2 linked regions of the Homo sapiens genome follow. The main gene of each other region encodes a partner of the protein of the gene in region 2 in a complex. Each region holds a gene or a part of one and is shown on either strand. Other genes may lie near its edges.

The links. Proteins that work in one complex are often made in the same cells at the same time.
Region 1: the proteins of EZH1 (region 2) and EED are in contact, whole or in part, in a cryo-EM structure (PDB 7KTP), measured with the Homo sapiens proteins. Residues at the interface, in NP_001982.2 of Homo sapiens: Gly37, Ala38, Lys39, Leu41, Tyr42, Val43, Asn45, Phe46, Lys48, Val49, Gln50, Lys52, Thr53, Gln54, Leu56, Asn57, Glu59, Trp60, Leu63, Arg64, Val65, Gln66, Pro67, Val68, Gln69, Ser70, Met71, Cys83, Thr84, Ile85; in NP_003788.2 of Homo sapiens: Cys84, Val85, Asn86, Ser87, Leu88, Lys89, Glu90, Asp91, Trp103, His104, Ser105, Lys106, Glu107, Val112, Arg120, Leu123, Tyr124, Gln129, Gly130, Glu131, Ile132, Arg133, Leu134, Leu135, Gln136, Ser137, Tyr138, Val139, Asp140, Tyr154.

The regions. Positions count from the first base shown.
Region 1 is NC_000011.10:86,239,797-86,247,760, forward strand, and holds the start of EED (polycomb protein EED), read left to right. Parts: upstream 1-4,956; 5' UTR 4,957-5,433; coding exon 5,434-5,547; intron 5,548-7,964. UniProt on the Homo sapiens protein: Polycomb group (PcG) protein. Component of the PRC2/EED-EZH2 complex, which methylates 'Lys-9' and 'Lys-27' of histone H3, leading to transcriptional repression of the affected target gene.
Region 2 is NC_000017.11:42,735,019-42,742,040, forward strand, and holds part of EZH1 (histone-lysine N-methyltransferase EZH1), read right to left. Parts: intron 1-7,022.

The sequences.
Region 1 (7,964 bases), on a different chromosome or scaffold from region 2:
TAATGTCATTTTATACATCTAAAAAACATTATGCTGAGCAAAAGAAGCCAGATACAAAAGAGAACATACTGAATTATTCTATTTATATGAAGTTCTACAATAGGCAAAACTAATATGCAAATATAGGCAAAACAGAATAGTGGCTGCCTGGGGAGAAAGAGAGGAGAGGTTTGACTGGGAAGAGGCATGAGAAAACTTTCTGAGGTGTTGGAAAGCTCCATCTGTATCTTGATGGTGTGTGGATTATATGGGTGTATGCCTGTGTCAAAACACATGGAACTATATACTTGAGATCTGTGCATTTCACTGTATATAAGTGAAATAAATACAAACAGAGTTAAAATAATGCCATTCTAATTCCTTCTGTATAAGTCTTATCAACAGGAGATACATGTTAATAGACTTGTCTTAAGAAGGTCTATAAGATCCTCCACGATCTGGCCCCTTACCTTCTTTTCTAGCCTTCTCTGTTACCACACTTTTGTCACCTTCTCTTTTCAGTCCTTCACCAGCACTGACCTTTCAGTGTACCAATGGCGTTTGTACTCTTCTCATATTCCTGCGCCAGGACTTTTGCACATGCTGTTATCACTCCCTAGAATGTTTCTCCTTCTCTTCTTAATGGGAGACTGGTTAACTCCCATTCTTCTTTTAGTTCTACTCTTCTGTCTGTTTCTCAGGGAAACCCTCCCATGTCTCACTTTATTACACACGTCCATGGAAACTTTGTCCAGCTGCTGTGTATGCCTGTGCAGCTTGTTCATCTAAACAAGGGTTCCCAGCTGAGGTGACAACTAAAACTAAAATCAAATTTGTGCTCCACTCACAAAGCCTTGCACACGGAGCAGGGTTGTATCAATCTGGAAAAGGGGGTGCCTTTTCTAATTTACCAAAGTCATTGTTTGCTTGCCAAGCTTTACCTACTCTGGGCTCTTTCTGCTATGGCCTTTTAAAAAATAGCACAAAGATACCATATGGGCTAGCAGCAGCCCTGACCTTGTACTTCCCCTTCATACCACTTACCACGGTAATTTCACATTTATTTGGTTAATGCTTGTTTCTCCTACTTGTCAATAAGCATGATGACAGCAGGAAATTGTCTGGTTTTGCTTATTGTCAAGTTTCCTCAGCACCTGGAACAGTGTTGGGCACACAGTAGGTACTCAGTAAATATATATTAAATCTATTCGTTATTTTTCTTTTTTTTTTTTTTAAGACAGAGTTTCACTCTTGTCACCCAGGCTGGAGTGCAATGGTGTGATCTCAGCTCACTGCAAACCTCAACCTCCCGGTTTCAAGCTATTCTCTCACCTCAGCCTCCCGAGTAGCAGGGATTACAGGCTCCAGCCACCACGTCAGGCTAATTTTTGTATTTTTAGTAGAGACGGGGTTTCGCCATGTTAGCCAGACTAGTCTCGAACTCTTGACCTCAGGTGATCCACCTGCCTCGGCCTCTCAAAGTGCTGGGATTACAGGCATGAACCACCACGCCCGGCCCCATTCGTTATTTCTTAACGCTGGATGAATATTAGGCTGTTTGAAGGTAGAGACTGTGTCTTATTTTCTTTTTTATTGTCCCCTCCTCCCCATTGCCCCTGGAATTATCCTACTGCTTTGCATGTAAATGGCATTCAGTAAATTCTTCCTGATTGATTTGAAAACGTTCAAATAAGCCATATGATGTTCTGTTCATAGAAAACCAGATCTGCAAGCATATGATTACACATTGCATGAATGATGATGAACAGCTGCTATTTATGAAGCAGAAGAGACAAAAATGTTGAATGAATGAGAAATAGACTCCAGTTGAAATGGGAAGGATTTAATTTAGCTTTTGAAACTCATTTCCTGATATGAAGCTTACAAGATACCAGGAGACAATGCCAAGGAACGCTGTGAATTTTCTTTTTCTATATAAGTAAATGATCTTGGAAAGTTCCAAGATGGATCAACCACTTACTTGAAGGCTAAGGGGTATTTCTTACTGAATTCTCAACAGCCAAGTATGAGATAGATATTTTAAAGTAAGTTTTTATTTTGGAATACTTTTACAGAAAATTTACTAAGAACAAAGATAGCATAGAGAGTTCCTGTATTCCCCTCATCCAGTTTCCCTCATTATTAACATCTTACATTACCATGTTACATTGGTCAAAATTAAGTAAAGACTGAAATCCGTACATTACTATAAACTATGCTATAGATTCTTTGTTTGTTTTCCCAGTTGTATCTTCTTTCTGTCCCAAGTGAGATAGCTTTTTAAAGTTCTTTGATACTTTATAAACAATTCTGTGGTCTAAAGACCAAGCTCTGTGCATAGAATTACATAAATTTAGAGCTGCCTGGGTCCCTCATCTTGAGGTAAAAGTGCTTTGGCTTTCCAATCAATTGAACACAATCTCTAGTACTGCCACTTGAACAGCTGTGTGTCTTTGGGCATACTGTTTACTTATCCTAAGTCTTAGTTTCCTCATTTGTAAAATGTGGGTAGTAAGACCTCTCCAACTGTGATGGTTCCTGAGATCTTTCACAGTAGGAGAATGCAGTGTTGAGAAACGTACAAATTTTTCTTTTTTAGAGAAGTAGGTCTCCTTATGCAGCGCAGCCTGGCTTTGATATCCCGGGCTCAAGCAATCTTCCTGCCTTAGTCTCTTGAGTAGCTGGAACTACAGGTACACATCAATGCACTCAGCAAAACTTATTTTTAATAGGTAATTAGACTTTTATGGTTATTAAATTAATACCACAAAAGTAGTACTCTGCATGGAACACCTATGACATTTTACATATCTTAAATTAGTAACAAAGACTCTCCTCTGAGCCCTCTTCTCCATCTTCCTGTCTAGCTTGCCTGGCTCAGCTGTAGCAAGAATTCTGCATCAGTTTAGAGAAAAACCCATACCCTGGATATCTGATCACCCCGGCCTTTTTTAGCACAAATTCTGTTAAGTTGGTGTAGCAAAAGTTTCCCCATTCTTGATGTCTCTTCTTAGTAATTTTCCAACCACCAACCCCTCCAACTTTGCTCCTTGACTATACATCCCCACTCCTTGCTGTAATTTGGAGTTGAGCCTGATCTCTCTCCTATTGTGATAGTCTTGACAGCTATCAAAATAGTCCTGAATTAAGTGTTCCTTACTATTTTAACAAGTGTCAGAATATTTTTCCTTTAATGTAGTGACAATAACGTAGTAATATAAACTAATTTCCATTTATCACCCCTGATTCATCAGAAACATTTTAAAAATAACCCCTTCAAGTTTTAATAAGCCTCTTTAAACTATTTTTGCTTTGTTACAGATAATATGAATGCTGTAAGGCATTTTTCTACCATATGTGTCCTTTATCCAAATGTTCAGCACTTTTCTAATTTTATGACTAGACGTTGACTCCCACTTCCCAGCTCCCACTAATCTCTCACACACGGAGTAATTTTAATTTGAAATGCTTTAGTCAATTATCCTTTACTTGTAGAACTATATTTCAGAAACGTCCTTCCCTTTGTTGGGAAAGATGTTCTTAACAAAGGGAAGGATGTTTCTGTCTGCTGATGAAAATGTCATGCCAAAGCACGTCTTACTTTGTCAGGAGCTTACTCTACTCCAGTCTCATCTCTTCTCACCAACTGAGGAGTGCTTAGTAGTGCCTGGAACATTGGAAGTACTGAACAAATGACTGCCGTCATTGAGACCTCAACTTTAATTTTTTTTCGGCTTCTTTATTTCAAAGTCTTCACTGCAGAAACCTCTCATTCTGACCTGCCTTTGCTTTACTTCCTTTTCTCATTCTCAACCAAGAGTTCTCTCTTTATCTACAAAAGAAAGAGTGACTTGCAATCTGCAGATAAGGAAACTGATGTCCTGGTTATAAAGTTATCATGCAGAAATAATTCAAGTATACTAGAATTTTATGGATGGTGCACTCTAGGTGGGTAATGAGGTCTAGAAGAGAAAAGATATACAACATCAAGCAGGTGCCCAAGAAATGGTAGGTCCCTTTCTCCCTTCCTGCCTCCTCATTTTTACAGATGAGGACATTTTTACAGAAGCCCGAATAGATAAGTAGTCACAATCATGTTCTAAGAAAAACAAAAAAAAGGTGGCGGATGCCGTATTTTATTTTTCGTCATCACTCTCCTTTTCCTGCTGCTCATTCAGTTATGGTTTCATGACCCATATAATAATTCCACAAGGCTCACCAATGTTATCTGGCACCTGCTAGAGAATAGATATAGTAACAGAGGCAAATATTTTGGTGAAGTTTAACAGTTGTGTTGCCTTCTAGAATTTCATTGTATCTGATGTGCAAAAACAAGCAAAACATTGTCGGTTAAGTATCACAATCTCATAATGGAGATGAGCACTGATTCTTAGGCCTTGGCGTAGTTCAGGGCCTATCCTTTAGCAGCTAAAAAGAGCACTTTGGCTGTAACTCATTGGAGTCTAGTCTCATAATGTTAGGATATTTCTATTTAAGTCTTAACCACTATTGGTAGCAACTGGAAGGATAATCATTCATTACAATAAATAGTCAACAGAATAAATATCCGACAAGAATTTACGAAGCGTCTAGAGTATAATTCGGTAGCGCTTTGAAATCCACCCTGGGATTCGGAAACCGGGTAGAAAACTACCTGGTTCAGCAAACGAGAATTCAAACAGAGGAGGGGCTTGGAGGAGGCGGGTTTCGACGAACCCAGCGCAAGAGTACGCCACGGCGCCTGCGCATCCCCTGACGGGTACTTTCCATTCGCCAGATGGGGGAAGCCAGGGGGAAGCAGGTTACTGTTTTTGCATTTCTATCTTCAAGGAAGAATTAGGTTATGAATAGTTCCGTGAATAGTCAGGAAGCGCTGTCCTCCAAGTTCAAGATTAAGGAAACGTGGCATGCACAGCTAAAGCAAGAGGTGACGTCTTGTATCTTCCCCCGTTTCCTGGGACATTGGTGGTGTAGCCCATTCCACAGACTTTCGCTCCCTAGCAGCGGGTCGGAGATCGAAGGAACGGGCCAATTGCGGCTGAAACGTCTTTGGAAGGAGGAAGGGGGTGAGGGAGCATCCCTTTGAGTTTCGCCTCTTCTCGAGGCGGTGGTGGGAAGGGAGACATACTTAATACTGCCCTCTTAATCCAACGGACCTTACATCGTGTAGACTGCCGGGAGGGCGGCGGGAAAAGGGCAAGACGGGAGTTGGGGAAGGGAAGGAGCCAGGAAGCCGCGCGGGAGGGCGCGCGCGCGCGCCCCTTTTTCAGCAGTGTGGCGGGGTCGCACGCACGCCCGCCTCGGCGGCTGGGCGCGATTTGCGACAGTGGGGGGGGCGGTGGAGGTGGCGGCGGCAGCGGCAACTTTGCGGCAAGCTCGGGCCGGGCTTGCTTGACGGCGGTGTGGCGGAGGCCCCGCCCCAGGCGGCAGGAACCTGGAGGGAGGCGGAGGAATATGTCCGAGAGGGAAGTGTCGACTGCGCCGGCGGGAACAGACATGCCTGCGGCCAAGAAGCAGAAGCTGAGCAGTGACGAGAACAGCAATCCAGACCTCTCTGGAGACGAGAATGTAAGTGCAGCTTCTGGCAGTTACGAGACTGCGGAGTGAAAGTTTTAAATTCTTTTAAAACGGGGGGCGCGGGGACGAGCGGGCTGCTGTGGGGGGAGGGAGAGGTGTCACTCAGGAAAACGCGGGCGTGCGGGAGAAAATTGAAATTGCCTACGGGGATTTTGATGTGGGGCCGAGAGCAAGCAGGAACTAGGCAAAGGAGAGTGGTTCTAGTGATTGCGTGGGTCTGAGAAGTCTGCCCTGAAATCAGTTTGCATGTGATGGGGAGTGTTTTGGCCTTTGGGGGGATTTAAGGGGAGAGTGCGGGTCTGAGATTCTAGTAGTTTAAAAGGCACGTTAGAGACTTTTCTAAGAAAGTTGGAAGGACGGGGCAGAGTTAGGGACCCTGTTAAAGGAGCGTAAGGGTTGTCACTCTAAGACCCTTGTGGAATTTTCAGGATGGAAAGTGATCTTCGATTTGCGGAGTTTGGGAGACTTTATTAAAGGGGGTTTTGTGTCCGCCTCCGTCCTGTCCGCGGAGACCGGGTGCGCCTGAAGGTCGCCTTTTCTGTAGGAGGAGCCGAATTGAGAGGATCGATTTTTGATTTGGGGGTGGGGAGTGACTACCTTTGAGGAAGTAAGAGTGGGTGATTTCTTCTTTGAACGTTTTTACTTAAGATAAAGGTGAGGGGGGTGGCGACCTGGAAGATTTTGGGCAACAGTGGTATAGGCAGATGTATTTAAGTGTGGGTTCCTGGCTTCGCCAAGTGCGCGATGTTTTGCAATCAGATTTTTTTAAGCTCTGAAATGGGTATTCGTAATCATTCGGTACCAACATTTAACCCAACTGAGTTTTAATTGACTCGCCAGTAAGAGCCGAATTGACATAAATAAGTTTTCAGTTTCATGTTTTAGGTTGATAACCAGTAAGGTCAACGAAGTATCTTGACAATTTATTCAAAGATACTACTCCAAAATGTGATTCTCCTTCTCATGATATATAACAACTTGTGAATATCTTTTAAAAAATCCTTAAAATGTTTCAGAAGAGTGGCGTAAGTTCTTCATTTTCTCAGTTTGGCTAGTTTTAGGAATAAATGTTACATCTTCTACACGCAGTTTCTAAATTCTGTCATAATTCCTAGCTGAAACATATAATGATGTCATGACTAAGATTTTCACGGAAAAGATGGGAAAGGATTCTTTTTGCAGAGACAAGATAGATATTCTTGGGATTGTCAGTTTGTGGGATCTTAGACTTCAAATTTCAGAAAAGCTTGGGTGTTAAGTGTTACTTTTGTATTTTTCACCCGATTGTGCGCCCCAATCTCACTGTACATTGGGATCTAACATTTTTTACCCTCTTCTTTTTATTATTTGAAGACCGTTCATTTTATTTCTGCGTTTTCTTAAATTTCTCTAGGCAGATTAGAGTATTAAGAGCACAGATGCTGGATCCAAGTGATAGGTTAAAATTTCTGTTCTATTAGCTTGACCTCGAGCAAGAGACTGACATAATTGTCTTAGTTTCTTAAAAATGAGGATGGTGGTGTATGGTATTTACCTCATAGAGTATTTGTAAGCATTAAATGAGTTAATATAGCTAAAGTACTAAGAAGAGTGTCTGCCCCATAGTAAGTACTATACACATGTTATTTATTTATAATAATTACTACTACTAATTTTATGATTACATAGAATAATGTTTCTGGCTCTTCCACATACTTAATAATCAGGCAAAATATAATGAAACTGTCAGACCTGTTTAGAATGAAGAAACTTGCAAAGGACAAAATAAAGCTTATTTTCTTCTTGCAGACCCTTACAGGAAAACATATTCTTTGCTGCAATTTTAAAGCTGTTCAAGACCAAATGATTGGATTAGTTTTGTTTTGGTTCCTCCATTTGGATAGCCTTAATTTTGTGTGTGTGCGTGCGCATGCCTTGGAAGCCTTAATCTTGTAGAGTCTTCTCAAAATAACATTTTTAGATGTATGAAATACAGGATATGAGGTTACAAACAAATTCAATTATAAAATTGTACACCATGTTATAAAATATTTCTAAAACAAATTTTAGATGTAGTCCTATACTATATGTACTTTATTAGCACATTAAGTAACAAGATCTAGCAGCGGGTCTGATAGTAGTGATGGGTATAAACACTTTTTCGAAGTGTAATATAAAAATACTTGATTTCCATTGGTGGCAGAGTCACAACTTCAGTAACATTAAGCATGTGTTACCTAGATAATAATAGAAGGAAGTGCTAAATTTTAAAGGTGGCAAAAATTAAGATGCAATTTTTTTTCCCCATTTGAGTTCACAAGCCTTCTGAATTTCATCCATGTACCCCTGACTTAGGGGCAGTAGTAAGGTAAGGGAGTAGAGAACATTGTATAAAAATGAGTTTAGAAAAGATAAGGGCAATAGTTTTA
Region 2 (7,022 bases):
AGAAAGGAAGAAAGGAAGGAGGGCGGGAGGGAGGGAAGGAAACAGAAAGGCAGGGAGGGAAAGAAAAGAAAAAAGAAGTATTAAGTAATGGAATAGAACATAATCTACAGATGCTGTCGTGTCTGGCTGGCTGTGGTGGCTCATGCCTGTCATCCCAACACTTTGGGAGGCTGAGGCGGGTGGATCACTTGAGGCCAGGAGCTCGAGACCAGCCTGGCCAACATGGTGAAACCCTGACTCTACTAAAAATACAAAATTTAGCAGGCCATGTTGGCACACACCTGAAACTCAGCCATAAGATGAGTTTTCACCACAGCTGGACCCTAACCAACAATTATCATATCAAAGTTAAAAAAAAAAAAGGGAACAAATAAAAAACTTAGCATTCACTAGAACAGGCAGATTTGGAGAGATGGATTCATTGGTGTTGGGCAAAGGGAGTGGCACACAAAAAAATACTTTATATTTCTACCAGATCTATTATTTAGTTACTTACACATGCAAAACAGCACTTATATTCCAGTTAGGTACTTAGCTAGTACTTAACAGCCTTTCATTATGTTCATCTACACATTGAAGATAAACTCCAAAACATATGCTGTTTTGATCAAGAAATTAAAAAATATTTATATAAGCAAGTCCTATAGCTCAATAATAAGACAAATCACCAATAAAAAGTGAGCAGAAGGCTGGATGTGGTGGCTCATGCCTGTAATCCCAGCACTTTGGGAGGTCAAGGCGGGTGGATCACAAGGTCAGGAGTTCGAGACCAGCCTGACCAACATTGTGAAACCCCATCTCTACTAAAAATACAAAATTAGCCAGGCGTGGTGGCGTCTGCCTGCAATCTCAGCTACTCAGGAAGCTGAGGCAGGAGAATTGCTTAAACCCAGGAGGCAGAGGTTGCAGTGGGCCAAAATCGTGCCACTGCACTCCAACCTGGGAGACAGCGAGACTCCGTCTCAAAAAAAAAAAGAGCAGAAATTTGAACAGCTATGTCACCAGAAAAGATACAGGAATGGCAAATGAGCACACAAAAGGTTGCTCCATATCATTAGTCATTAGGGAAATGCAGATGAAAAATACAATGAGATACTATTAAACACCACTACCATGGCTAAAATGAAAAAAGACTGATAATACAACTTGTTGGTGAGGACGTGAAGCAACTGGAATCCTCATACACTGCTGGTAGGAATGCAAAGTGATATAGCCACTGTGGAAGGCAGTTTGCCAGTTTTTCAAAAATAAAGCTGAATATATACTTACCACAGAACCTGGCATACAATTTCTAATTATTTATCCAAGAGAATTGAAAACCTATGTCTCCACAAAGATCTGTACCCAAATGTTCATATTTATTTATAATAGCCAAAAGTGAAAACAACACACATATCAATGGATTGGCTAATGGATACAAAATGTAGTGTGTATAGATATATACACACACAATGGAATACTATTCAGCAACAAAAAGCCATGAATAGTTTCTATACATTCACACCACATCTCAAGACCATTAAAAGACTATGCTGGTTGAGTGCAGTGGCTCACGCCTGTAATCCCAGCACTTTGGGAGGCTGAGGCAGGCAGATCACTTGAGATCAGGAGTTCGAGACCAGCCTGGCCAACATGGTGAAACCTCATCTCTACAAAAATACAAAAATTAGCTGGGCATGGTGGTGTGCACTTGTAGTCTCAGCTGCTTGGAGGCTGAGGCAGGAGAATCGCTTGAACCTAGCAGGGCAGAGATTGCAGGGAGGTAGAGATTGCAGTGATCTGAGAATGCGCCACTGCACTCCAGCCTGGGGAACAGAGCGAGACTCTGCCTCATTAATAATAATAGTAATAATAAAATGAAACCACCATACTAAGTGAAAAAAATAAGACGCAAATAACTGCATATGATTCCACTTAAGATGTTCTGCTGGCCAGTTGCAGAACAGGAACTCCCTGTACTAGCTTTACAATTTTTTTTTTTTTTTGAGACAGAGTCTCGCTCTGTCGCCCAGGCTGGAGTGTAATGATGCAATCTCGGCTCACTGCAACCTCCACCTTCTGGGCTCAAGCGATTCTCCTGCCTCAGCCTCTTAAGTAGCTGGGATTACAGGCACATGCCACCGCGCCGAGCTAATTTTTGTATTTTTAGTAGAGACAGAGTTTCACCATGTTGCCTAGGCTCGTCTTGAACTCCTGACCTCAGGTGATCCACCCGCCTTGGCCTCCCAAAGTGCTGGGATTACAGGCGTGAGCCACCGCGCCCAGCCTACAATTTTTAAAATAAATCTAAAACTATTCTAGGGCAGGCGTGATGGCTCATGCCTGAAATTCCAACACTTTTGGAGGCTGAGGCAGGTGGATCTCTTGGGCCCAGTTGTTCGAGACCAGCCTGGACAACATGGTGAGATCCCATCTCTACAAAAGAAATACAAAAATTAGTTGGGCATGGTGGCGTGTGCTTCTAGTCCCAGCTACCAGGGAGGCTGAGGTGAGAAGACAGATGGAGCCTGCACGATCAAGGCTGCAGGAGCAAGCTGTGACTGCGCCATTGCACTCCAGCCTGGGTGACAGAGTGAGACCCTGTTTCAAACAAACCAAAAACAAACAAACTATTCTTTCTTTTTTTTCTTTCTTAAAAAACAAACTATTCTAAAAAATAGAGTTTATTTTTTAAAAAGATTAATCATTGGAAATACGAACCACTTTATTTACTGTCACATCTCTACAGGAAAAGAAAGCTATAAAAATGTAGCAATCTTTCCCCAGAAAACTGGATCTCAATTTGCTGCAAAGGCTAAAACTAGAATGTAGTCTGTCACTAGGTGGAAATGGGAAAACATTACTGAAATTGTATGGCAATAAAAAATTTAAGGAACGGCTGGGTGCGGTGGCTCACGCCTGCAATCACAGCACTTTGGGAGGCCGAGACAGGCGGATCACGAGGTCAGGAGATCAAGACCATCCTGGGTAACACAGTGAAACCCCGTCTCTACTAAAAATACAAAAAATTAGCTGGGCATGGTGGCGGGCACCTGTAGTCCCAGCTACTCAGGAGGCTGAGGCAGGAGAATGGCGTGAACCCAGGAGGCGGAGCTTGCAGTGAGCCGAGACGGTGCCACTGAACTCCAGCCTGGGCGACAGAGCAAGACTCTGTCTCAAAAAAAAAAAAAAAAAAAAAATTTAAGGAACAAGTTCTTAAACTTAGAGAGACTGAGATCAGAATACAAAAGTTCCAAACTATTAAATTTTTTCATCTACATAAGGTGTCCCTTTGCAGAAACAGCTTCTTTGTCTTAGGGGCAAATTCAGTGTCTTTGATAGTTTCTCTTGAATAATAATTTTATTAACCAGCAAGGCTAAGTAAGCCTTTGGAGGCAGATGGCACTACAGATTTTTATTTTTTAATTTTATTTATTTGTATTTATTATTTGTATTTATTATTATTTTTTGAGACGGAATCTCGCTCTGCTGGGATTACAGACGTGAGCCACCGTGCCCAGTCTATTTTTTTTATTTTTTTTTGAGATGGAGTCTCACTCTGTTGCCAGGCTGGAGTGCGTTGGTGCAATAACAGCTCACTGCAACCTCTGCCCCAGCTAATTTTTGTATTTTTAGTAGAGACAGGGTTTCACCATCTTGGCCAGGCTGGTCTGGAACTCCTAACCTCAGGTAATTCACCCACCTTGGCCTCCCAAAGTGCTGGGATTACAGGCGTAAGCCACCGGGCCTGGCCTAGATTTTTTTTTTTTTTTTTTTTTTGAGAAGGAGTCTCACTCTGTCACCCAGGCTGGAGTGCAGTGGTGCTATCTCAGCTCACTGCAATCTCCACCTCCTGGGTTCAAGCGATTCTCTTGCCTCCACCCCCCCTGAGTAGCTGGGACTATGCTCGCCACCAAGCCGGGTTAATTTCTGTATTTTTAGTAGAGGCGGGGTTTCACCATGTTGGCCAGGATGGTCTCCATCTCCTGACCTCGTGATCCACCTGCCTCGGCCTCCCAAAGTGCTGGGATTACAGGCGTGAGCTACCACGCCTGGCCCCTGGCCTATATTTTTAAATATTTCATCCTATTCCTTTTTTGATTCATAGTGTAATTGAAACCTGAATGATAGGGGTGAACCTATCCCTGCAAAGAGCTCTAGTAACACACCTTTGGGTCATTCTGGTGATCACCAATTTCATCAACATTTCAATTAAAATCAATTCTGTGACTAGGTACACAGCCTGATCTCTCAGTTAGGATCTATAAAGCACATCTCTAATTTATACCCTCCAACTTCTCTGAGGTATTTTCATCTGTCATTAGTTTGAGCTTCTGGGCACTACACACAGAAAGAACCTTCCTAACAGGAACCTGTGACTCTGAATTCTAATTTAAAATAAAATTATAACATTAGTATTTCCTAGTGTTGCTTAATTAAGAGAATCAGATCAGCTGGGTGCAGTAGCTCACACCTGTAATCCCAGCACTTTGGGAGGCCAAGGCGAGTGGATCACCTGAGGACAGGGGTTCGAGACCAGCCTAACATGCAGAAACCCCGTCTCTACTAAAAATACAAAATTAGCCGGGCATGGTGGTGGATGCCTGTAATCCCAGCTACTCGGGAGGCTGAAGCAGGAGAATCGCTTGAACCCAGGAGGCAGAGGTTGCAATGAGCTGAGATCGTGCCATTGCACTCCAGTCTGAGCAACAAGAGTGAAATTCTGTCTCAAAAAAAAAATTAGATCGTATGCACTGGAGGTAATGGTAACAAAAATCTAAACAGGATTAGTTTTTTTTTTTTTGAGACAGAGTCTCGCGCTGTCGCCCAGGCTGGAGTGCAGTGGCGCGATCTTGGCTCACTGCAAGCTCCATCCCCCAGGTTCACGCCATTCTCCTGCCTCAGCCTCCCGAGTACCTGGGATCACAGGTGCCCACCACCATGCCCAGCTAATTTTTTGTGTTTTCAGTAGAGACAGGGTTTCACCATAAACAGGATTAGTTTTTATGAGACCCAAAGGAAAATGCTGGCTCACAGGATTTATAACTCTGGTTTAATTTTATTTCATTTTATTTTGTTTTTTGAGAAAGGGTCCCACTCTGCCGACCAGGCATGATCATAGCTCACTGCACTTCGACCTCCCAGGCTCAAGGGATCCTTTGGCCCCAGCCTCCCTAGTAGCTGGGACTACGGGCACATGCCACCATGCCTGGCTAATTTTTTATATTTTCAGTGGAGACAAGATCTTTTTTTTTTTTTTTGAAACGGAGTCTTGCTCTGTTGCCAGGCTGGAGTGCAGTGGTGCAATCTCAGCTCACTGCAACCTCCGCCTCCCGGGTTCAAGCGATTCTCCTGCCTCAGCCTCCCGCGTAGCTGGGACTACAGGTGCAAGCCACCACGCCCAGCTAATTTTTGCATTTCAGTAGAGACAGGTTTCACCATGTTGGCCAGGATGATCTCGATCTCTTGACCTTGTGATCCACCCGCTTCGGCCTCCCAAAGTGCTGGGATTACAGGCGTGAGCCACTACGCCCAGCCTACAAGATCTTGCTATGTTTCCCAGGCTGGCCTTGAACTCCTGACTTGAAGTAATCCCCCTTCCTCAGCCTCCCAAAGGGTTGAGATTACAGACATGAGCCACCGTGCCCAGTGAGAACGCTGACTTGGAAGAGTAAAAGCAATCTCCTAACAGGCTAGAGCCCTATCTTGACTGGTTCTGTACTGTGTCAGCCCAAAGTTTAATACTGTACTGTATTTAGTGCCTGCTCATATCATCCAATAAAAATAAGACTTTTTAGTCTATTTTGAATCAAATTATTCGGGTAGGTGAGTTAGAGAATAAAACACACTAAAGGTACTGAATTCCAACTACCCATTAAGTAACTCATGACTTTAGGGTGTAGTGTACTCAAGTCTCAACTGATGATTGACTGATAGACTAAGGAGTAGGAAAGAATCCAATATGTACACAGTTTGGACATAAAACAAAACAAAGAAAAAGCTGGGGACTTTCCAGAATGGAGAAGCACAATTTTTCTTTTTTTAACCTTTAACCCTTCCCCTCAATCCCAACCTATCTAATTATCTTCACTTTTCTCCACAAATTGTTTTCTCTTTTCTCTTTAGTTTATTCTATGTAGAAATGGAATTAGTGTGTTTTTAGTGTTGCTACCTCAAATCTTTTCTGGGACGCTACTAGTGAACAAAATAGAAATAGTGAACAAAGTGGAAACTGTTTTTGAGACAGGGTCTCCCTTTGTCGCCCAGGCTAGAGTACAGTGGTGCCATCTCAGCTCACTGCAACCTCCGCCTTCCAGGTTCAAGGGATTCTCGTTCCTCAGCCTCCCAAGTAGCTGGGATGACAGGTGTGGGATGCCCACGCCCAGCTAATTGTAGAAACGGGGTTTCACCGTGTTGGACAGGCTGGTCCCAAACTCCTGGCTTCAAGTGATCAATCCCTCGGCCTGCTCCCAAAGTGCTGGGATTACAGCTGTGAGCCACAACGTGGGGGGCCCAAAGTGAAACTTTTTAAACTTAATCTAAGACCAGAAAAAGATATACTTAATGACATGAATTGTTACATGTTTCATATAAACAGCAAATCAAAGGGAAGGAACTGTTGCCTACAGAGTAATGAAGCCAGGTTTCAGACCCTAGGAATTAAAAATAGACAAAATTAATATTTTGAATCGGTTTCTTATTTTGTTTTGAGACAGGGTCTTGCTCTGTTGCCCAGGCTGGAATGCAGTGGCTTGATCTCGGCTCACTGCAACCTCTGCCTCCTGGGCTCAAGCAATCCTCCCTACTCAGCCTCCTGAGTAGTTGGGACTACAGGCCCACACCACCAGGCCTGGCTAATTTTTGTAATGTTTTTGTAGAGACAGAGTTTTGCCATGTTGCCCAGGCTGGTCTCACACTTCTGAACTCAAGTGATTCGCCCACCTCGGCCTCCCAAAATACTGGGATTACAGGCATGAGCCACAGTGTCCAGACTTAAATTGGTTGTTTGAAGGTATCATCCAAAGGCAAATATATAAGAAACA